Homo sapiens: one gene and its partner. The protein of the gene in region 1 binds, or shares a complex with, the protein of each later gene. Each region holds a gene or a part of one and is shown on either strand. Other genes may lie near its edges. The genes, in order: UBE3A and PSMD4.

Region 1 (4,131 bases):
AGTGTTTCATGTCCTAATAGGATAGTAGTATTTTCTGTTATGTTACATTTTAGGAAATTAGGAGTTTTGCATTGTCTTGTAAGAAGGTATTTTAAAAATTTTCAATGAAAATAATGAGAAATAGGTTTCCAGTGGTTTTATGCTTTTGGGGAAGAGGTTACTGATGTTTAGCAAAAGATGCTTATATATTCTTAATAGAACAAACCTGAGAATTAGTTCTTAAAGAGTTAAGGCCCATAAAAGAAACTGTAAGTGTTGGTACTCTTGTAGCTGGGCCACAGATCAGATCCTTAGTATGATAAAATTTGGTATTTTTGTGCTTCAATTTTTGGAGACCATTCAATGATCACTTACATTTTATATTGTCTTTCATTGTGAAACATATATTATAGCAGAGGTGGGAGTCATTAAAAATTCTACATGTTGTACACTACATGTATAAGGGTATATTTGGCGCAATGGAGGTAGGATTGTCTGTGTGCCTCTAAAATTAACCTCTCAAGTAGTTAATCTGATGATGACAAGTATGTCACTTTATTGATAAAAGGGAGAATTAAGACTATTCTCAGTATTATGTTGGTCAGTACACAAAATATATCATTTGTTTTTACCTGTGAAATGAAATATCTTTCATCCTATTAGCCAGAAGGGAGAAAGCCTTGGCCTGAAAATAACACTTATCTCAAAAAGTTGGGAAATGTGGTCCAACTCTGTGCCCAGGAAAAGAGGAAATAGATTTTGATGACTACATAGTCTCTGCACTGCTTGCCAGCTCATAAGTTTACTTCTTTGCACTGTTTGTTTTCATTGCTCAAAAACTATTTTCTGTCACTCTATGAGATTTAGTCTAACCTGATTCCTGGCTGTGGAAAGCAGTTTCTACTTAAGAGCCGATGAGAAATGGTATATTCTTCTCAATCACTCACAGAATGACTACCCTGGAACAAACTAGGAAGACCCAAAATGAACCAGTTTGATTTTAATACATACATAGATGCTGAAGGAGCCTTTTTTTAAGACCTTGCCTTCTTAGTCTTTGGAGAACAGAGTACTGAAACAAGAAAACTCACAGATTAGTAGTATTTCTGTGTGTTCTACAGTGAGGTTTTAAGAGCTGTATTATGATTAATCAGTACATGACATATTGGTTCATATTTATAATTAAAGCTATACATTAATAGATATCTTGATTATAAAGAAAGTTTAAACTCATGATCTTATTAAGAGTTATACATTGTTGAAAGAATGTAAAAGCATGGGTGAGGTCATTGGTATAGGTAGGTAGTTCATTGAAAAAAATAGGTAAGCATTAAATTTTGTTTGCTGAATCTAAGTATTAGATACTTTAAGAGTTGTATATCATAAATGATATTGAGCCTAGAATGTTTGGCTGTTTTACTTTTAGAACTTTTTGCAACAGAGTAAACATACATATTATGAAAATAAATGTTCTCTTTTTTCCTCTGATTTTCTAGATGTGACTTACTTAACAGAAGAGAAGGTATATGAAATTCTTGAATTATGTAGAGAAAGAGAGGATTATTCCCCTTTAATCCGTGTTATTGGAAGAGTTTTTTCTAGTGCTGAGGCATTGGTACAGAGCTTCCGGAAAGTTAAACAACACACCAAGGAAGAACTGAAATCTCTTCAAGCAAAAGATGAAGACAAAGATGAAGATGAAAAGGAAAAAGCTGCATGTTCTGCTGCTGCTATGGAAGAAGACTCAGAAGCATCTTCCTCAAGGATAGGTGATAGCTCACAGGGAGACAACAATTTGCAAAAATTAGGCCCTGATGATGTGTCTGTGGATATTGATGCCATTAGAAGGGTCTACACCAGATTGCTCTCTAATGAAAAAATTGAAACTGCCTTTCTCAATGCACTTGTATATTTGTCACCTAACGTGGAATGTGACTTGACGTATCACAATGTATACTCTCGAGATCCTAATTATCTGAATTTGTTCATTATCGTAATGGAGAATAGAAATCTCCACAGTCCTGAATATCTGGAAATGGCTTTGCCATTATTTTGCAAAGCGATGAGCAAGCTACCCCTTGCAGCCCAAGGAAAACTGATCAGACTGTGGTCTAAATACAATGCAGACCAGATTCGGAGAATGATGGAGACATTTCAGCAACTTATTACTTATAAAGTCATAAGCAATGAATTTAACAGTCGAAATCTAGTGAATGATGATGATGCCATTGTTGCTGCTTCGAAGTGCTTGAAAATGGTTTACTATGCAAATGTAGTGGGAGGGGAAGTGGACACAAATCACAATGAAGAAGATGATGAAGAGCCCATCCCTGAGTCCAGCGAGCTGACACTTCAGGAACTTTTGGGAGAAGAAAGAAGAAACAAGAAAGGTCCTCGAGTGGACCCCCTGGAAACTGAACTTGGTGTTAAAACCCTGGATTGTCGAAAACCACTTATCCCTTTTGAAGAGTTTATTAATGAACCACTGAATGAGGTTCTAGAAATGGATAAAGATTATACTTTTTTCAAAGTAGAAACAGAGAACAAATTCTCTTTTATGACATGTCCCTTTATATTGAATGCTGTCACAAAGAATTTGGGATTATATTATGACAATAGAATTCGCATGTACAGTGAACGAAGAATCACTGTTCTCTACAGCTTAGTTCAAGGACAGCAGTTGAATCCATATTTGAGACTCAAAGTTAGACGTGACCATATCATAGATGATGCACTTGTCCGGGTAAGTTGGGCTGCTAGATTAAAAACCTAATAATGGGGATATCATGATACAGTTCAGTGAATTCATTTTAAAAGTGACTGAAAAAAATGATACCATATAGCATAGGAACACATGGACATTTCTGATCTTATATAAGTATTATACTTTTGTTGTTCCTGTGCAAGTTTATAGATGTGTTCTACAAAGTATCGGTTGTATTATATAATGGTCATGCTATCTTTGAAAAAGAATGGGTTTTCTAAATCTTGAAAACTAAATCCAAAGTTTCTTTCATTCAGAAGAGAATAGAGTGTTGGACAAAGACCAGAACAAGAGAAATGTGGAGATACCCAATAATAAGTGTGGATGTGCAGTCTTGAACTGGGAGTAATGGTACAGTAAAACCATACCATAAAATTATAGGTAGTGTCCAAAAAATTCCATCGTGTAAAATTCAGAGTTGCATTATTGTGGACTTGATGAAGTGACCATGGCAGATCAGTGCCTGTTGCCAGTAAGAGTTGAGTCCTGCTGGGCCACTTAGAATATCCCTGTGTGGACGGCACTGCCTGGCTGTGGTAGTTTCTTCCCACTTAAAAATTCATAGAGACAACTCTGGGTCTTGGAACTTCTGGAAAACAGCAGCTATTCCAAAAATCTGGGGATTAGTGGTGCCTGTAACATCAAGTCCAGGGAGATTGAGCAGGGAAATACTGGAAACTCAGGTACTCATCCTAACTTCCTGGTTTTCCAGATGGGGTTGCCATTTGTTCCTTTTCTTTCCTCCACAAGATAATTTTAGTGTATCTGTTTAAGAATATAAGAGTGGCCAGAAGACAGAAAGCAGTCGTCAGTCACATTTCACCAAAATTTACATTTGTCTCAGGTGCATTATCGCAGAGCTTTATTGTATTTCTAGTATTAGCTATCCCTGTCATTGCTGCTACTTTTTTATCATCTTCAAGTAAAATTTAATGTCAACAAAAATTAAGGTAGTTAATAATACTATAGTATACTAGTAAAGTTGTCTGACACAGACAACTAGGAAATGTGATTTTTACTTTAAAATGTATTTTAGTTTTAGAATGTCTAAATTTTAGTTTTAGAATTGTCTAAATTCGAGAATTCATAAAGCTGTAGCCCGGTGGAAAAAGTTATTTGACATCTCAGAAATTAAAAATTGCAGAGATTTTGTGTGTTTTTTTTTTTTTTGTTACTGGTTTGTTTTTTTTTTTTAATGTCAGATATGTTTATAGTGTTGGAGAAAGATTCTGCATTATTTAAGCAACTCAGGTGGTTTTCTAGCAGAGACAAAAGGGGGCTTTAACTGCCTGAAGTCATTATTATTGCTTGCTTTCTGGTACCCTTTTTATTTCACTTACATAGTTTTGAGACACATGAATAATTAATACACTTAATGACTGATCATA
Region 2 (3,600 bases), on another chromosome or scaffold:
GTACACATAACCCAGCCTCAATAATTATCAACATAAATAAGACCAGCGTGGCCGGGTGCAGTGGCTCAAGCCTGTAATCCCAGTTTTCGGAGGCTGAGATGGGAGGCCAGGAGTTAGAGGTTGCAGTGAGCTATGTATGATTGCACCACTGCTGCACTCCAGCCCAGTGAGACCTTGTCTCTTTTGTTTTACTTTGAGACCCTGTCTCAAAAAACAAAACTATTTGTTTCTTCCAGAGGATTAAGTTAAATCCCAAACTTCATATACTTTTTTTATCTATGAATACAACATATAACCCTTAATAAAGCCTACTTTTATAAGGGTGATAACTTTAACACTATTATCATGCCTAAAAAAATTGCTTAATATCAAATATCCAGCTGATGTGATGGCTCACGCCTGTAATCCCAACACTTTGAGACTTTTTTTTTTTCAGAGATGGGGTCTGGCTATGTTGCCTACGCTGGTCTCGAACTCATGCGCTCAAGCCATCCTCCCACATCAAAAAATTAAAAACAAATTAGCTGGGCTTGGTGGCATGCACCTATAGCCCCAGCTACTCAGGAGGCTGAGGCAGGAGGATGGCTTGAACCCGGGAGGTGGAGATTGCAGTGAGCCGAGATCAGGCCACTGCACTCCAATCTGGGCAACAGAGCGACACCCTGTCTCAAACAATAAAACTTTGTAGAGACGGAGTCTGGCTGTGTTGTCCAGGCTGGTCTCAGACTCCTAGCCTGAGTTGATCCTCCTGCCTGGGCCTCCCAAAACGCTGGGATTATAAAACCTAAGCCATTGCATCAGGCCTTGAATGTAATTTTTGATTAACCAAAACGGTTTAGTGGTTTGTTCTTTGGCAGATTAGTTAATATAATTGAGTTGTCAAATCTTTTCCGGGCTCTGTACTGGGCTTAGGGAATTGTAAAGATTAAGACACGTTGCCGGCCAGGTGTGGTGGCTCACGCCTGTAATCCCAGCACTTTGGGAAGCTGAGGTGGGTGGATCATCTGAGGTCAGGAAATCGAGACCAGCCTGGCCAACATGGTGAAACCTCGTCTCTACTAAAAATACAAAATTAGCCGGGCATGGTGGAATGCCCCTGTAGTCCCAGCTACCTGGGAGGCTGAGGCAGGAGAATCCCTGGAACCCAGGAGGTGGAGGTTGCAGTGAGCCGAGATCGAGCCACTGCACTCTAGCCTGGGTGAAAGAGCGAGACTCCTCCGTCTCAAAAAAAAAAAAAAAAAAAAAAAAAAAAAAAAAAAAAAAGGCACGTTGCCCACCCTTAGTTAAACGAGGGAGGAGATAAATATACAAATAAATTCAATTGAAGGGTATAAGGGCTTGTTGAATTAAAATTCTACAGGGAACTGAGGGCTGTAGAAAGTCATTAGCGATCCCGACACTTTTTTTTTTCTTTTTTTGAGACGGAGTCTCACTCTGTCCCCCAGGCTGGAGTGCAGTGGCGCGATCTCGGCTCACTGCAATCTCTGCCTCCCGGGTTCAAGTAATTCTCCTGCCTCAGCCTCCCGAGTAGCGGGGATTACAGGCGTGCGCCACCATGCCCGGCTAATTTTTTGTATTTTTAGTAGAGACAGGGTTTCACCATGCTGGCCAGGCTGGTCTCGAACTCCTGACCTCGTGATCCGCCCGCCTTGGCCTCCCAAAGTGCTGGGCTAACAGGCGTGAGCCACCGCGCTCGGCCGATCCCGACACTTTTTTAAAATGCCGAAGCCGGAATCGACACAGCACTTTCAAAGGTTCCTCCATAGCTCCCCTGAGATCCGGCCAGCGGGAAACCCCAACTGAGAACTGCAATGGCAGGGAAAGTGGAGGCTAGATCCTGTTTTTTGTGTTACCGCGATTCCCTTCAACTACCCTCAAGACGCCTACAAATTTGTTTGGCGGCACCTACAACTCCCAGAACGCAACGTGGGGGACGGAGGCGGAAGCAGCTGGCCAAGCCGAGGTCTGTGATTGGTGAAGAGCGACGGGCCAATTGGAGGAGTTGTTGTTAGGCCGTCCCGGAGACCCGGTCGGGAGGGAGGAAGGTGGCAAGATGGTGTTGGAAAGCACTATGGTGTGGTGAGGAGCTACTTCGGGGCAGGAGGGGCAGAGCTGGGTTCCGGGCGCGTGTAGCGCCAAGGCAGGGAGGGCCTGGGGTGGGGGCCAGGGGCTCATGGGCGAGAGGCGGCCCTGGCCCCGGAGGTAAGGAGCCCGCTGGACTCCCTGAGTCATCCCGGGGCCCTGGAGTGGCGGATAGTCCCGGGTTACCACTGTTACCCCCAGGGGGACGGTCATTGACTGGTCATTCCTGCTTCCTTTCTCTGTTCTAGCGCCGTCTTCTCTAGAGCAGCCCGGGTCTGTCTTTAGCTACAGTTCTGCTTTTCGGACTCATCGTAATAGTTTTCTGCCCTCCTTTCTTTGCAAAATAACGTCTATTAGGAAAATAGATTATTAATCCCTTCCTCTCCCCATTCCCTCGTCTCTAACTTCATTACCTTTCCCTGTATCATCTTCAAAGGTACCATTTACAGATTGCTTTTTATGTATCAGTCATTTTGTTTATCTCACTTATACCTCACAACCACACCTTAAGGTAAATTATCTCTCCATTTTACGGTTCAGGATACCGAGTCTCAGCGATTTTAAGTGATTTGTCCAAAATCATACAGCTAGTTAAGTGGTGGAGTCAAGATTTAAACCCACGGCTGTCTGACACAAAGGCTTTATCCGGTGAGGTAGCTCTCTTTGTCAGTTTCAGGCTTGGGCTGAGTACCTATTACGAGTCACATTAGAAGAGGAGGACATAAATTTTTGCAGGGTTTCAAGAGTTCCTTCTAAGTGTAATCACTGAATGTAATACAGAATAGTTGACGAACACAAATCACCGATTGGGTGAAACAGGCACCTATGAGATTTCTTCTTTTTATTTTCTCGGGGGAGCATAGCATTGCCAGATAACATACAGGATGCCCAGTGAAATTTGAGTTTCAGATAAACGATGAATAATTTTTTTTTGAGACGGTCTCGCTCTGTCTCCCGGACTGGAGTGCAGTGGCCCAGTCTGGCTCACTGCAGCCTCCGCCTCCCTGGTTCAAGTGATTCCCAGTGATTGAACTAATTTACACTTGCACCAACGATAGAACAGTGTTCTCTTTTCTCGCAACCTTGCCAGCATCTGTTATTTTTTTAGTTTTTAGTAATAGCCATTCTGACTGGTGTTAGGTGGTATCTCGTTGTGGTTTTGATTTATTTGCATTTCTCTAATGATCAGTGATATTGAGGTTTTTTTAATAGGCTTGTTGGCTGTATGTATATCGTCTTTTGAAAAGTGTCTGGCTGGGGCGTGGCTCAGGCCTGTAATCCCAGCACTTTGGAAGGCTGAAGTGGGTGTATCACCTGAGGTCAGGAGTTACTGACCAGCCTGGCCAACATGGTGAAACCCCATCTCTACTAAAAATACAAAAATTAGCCAGGCGTGGTGGTGGACGCCTGTAGTCCCAGCTACTCCAGAGGCTGAGGTGGGAGAATCGTTTGAACCCCGGAGGTGGAGGTTGCAGTGAGCCGAGATGGCGCCACTGCACTCTAGCCTGGGCGACAGAG

What was found.
Region 2: the proteins of UBE3A (region 1) and PSMD4 are in contact, whole or in part, in an NMR structure (PDB 6U19), measured with the Homo sapiens proteins. Residues at the interface, in NP_000453.2 of Homo sapiens: Lys25, Arg26, Ala27, Ala29, Lys30, Ile33, Glu34, Tyr37, Asn65, Asn66, Ala69, Ile70, Leu73, Tyr76, Lys77; in NP_002801.1 of Homo sapiens: Glu323, Asp324, Tyr326, Val328, Met329, Asp331, Phe334, Leu335, Val338, Leu339, Asn341, Leu342, Pro343, Gly344, Val345, Asn349, Ala351, Ile352, Ala355, Met356, Leu359, Gln362.

What each region holds. Positions count from the first base shown.
Region 1 is NC_000015.10:25,369,157-25,373,287, reverse strand, and holds part of UBE3A (ubiquitin-protein ligase E3A), read left to right. Parts: intron 1-1,475; coding exon 1,476-2,722; intron 2,723-4,131. UniProt on the Homo sapiens protein: E3 ubiquitin-protein ligase which accepts ubiquitin from an E2 ubiquitin-conjugating enzyme in the form of a thioester and transfers it to its substrates.
Region 2 is NC_000001.11:151,252,730-151,256,329, forward strand, and holds the start of PSMD4 (26S proteasome non-ATPase regulatory subunit 4), read left to right. Parts: upstream 1-2,004; 5' UTR 2,005-2,053; coding exon 2,054-2,079; intron 2,080-3,600. UniProt on the Homo sapiens protein: Component of the 26S proteasome, a multiprotein complex involved in the ATP-dependent degradation of ubiquitinated proteins.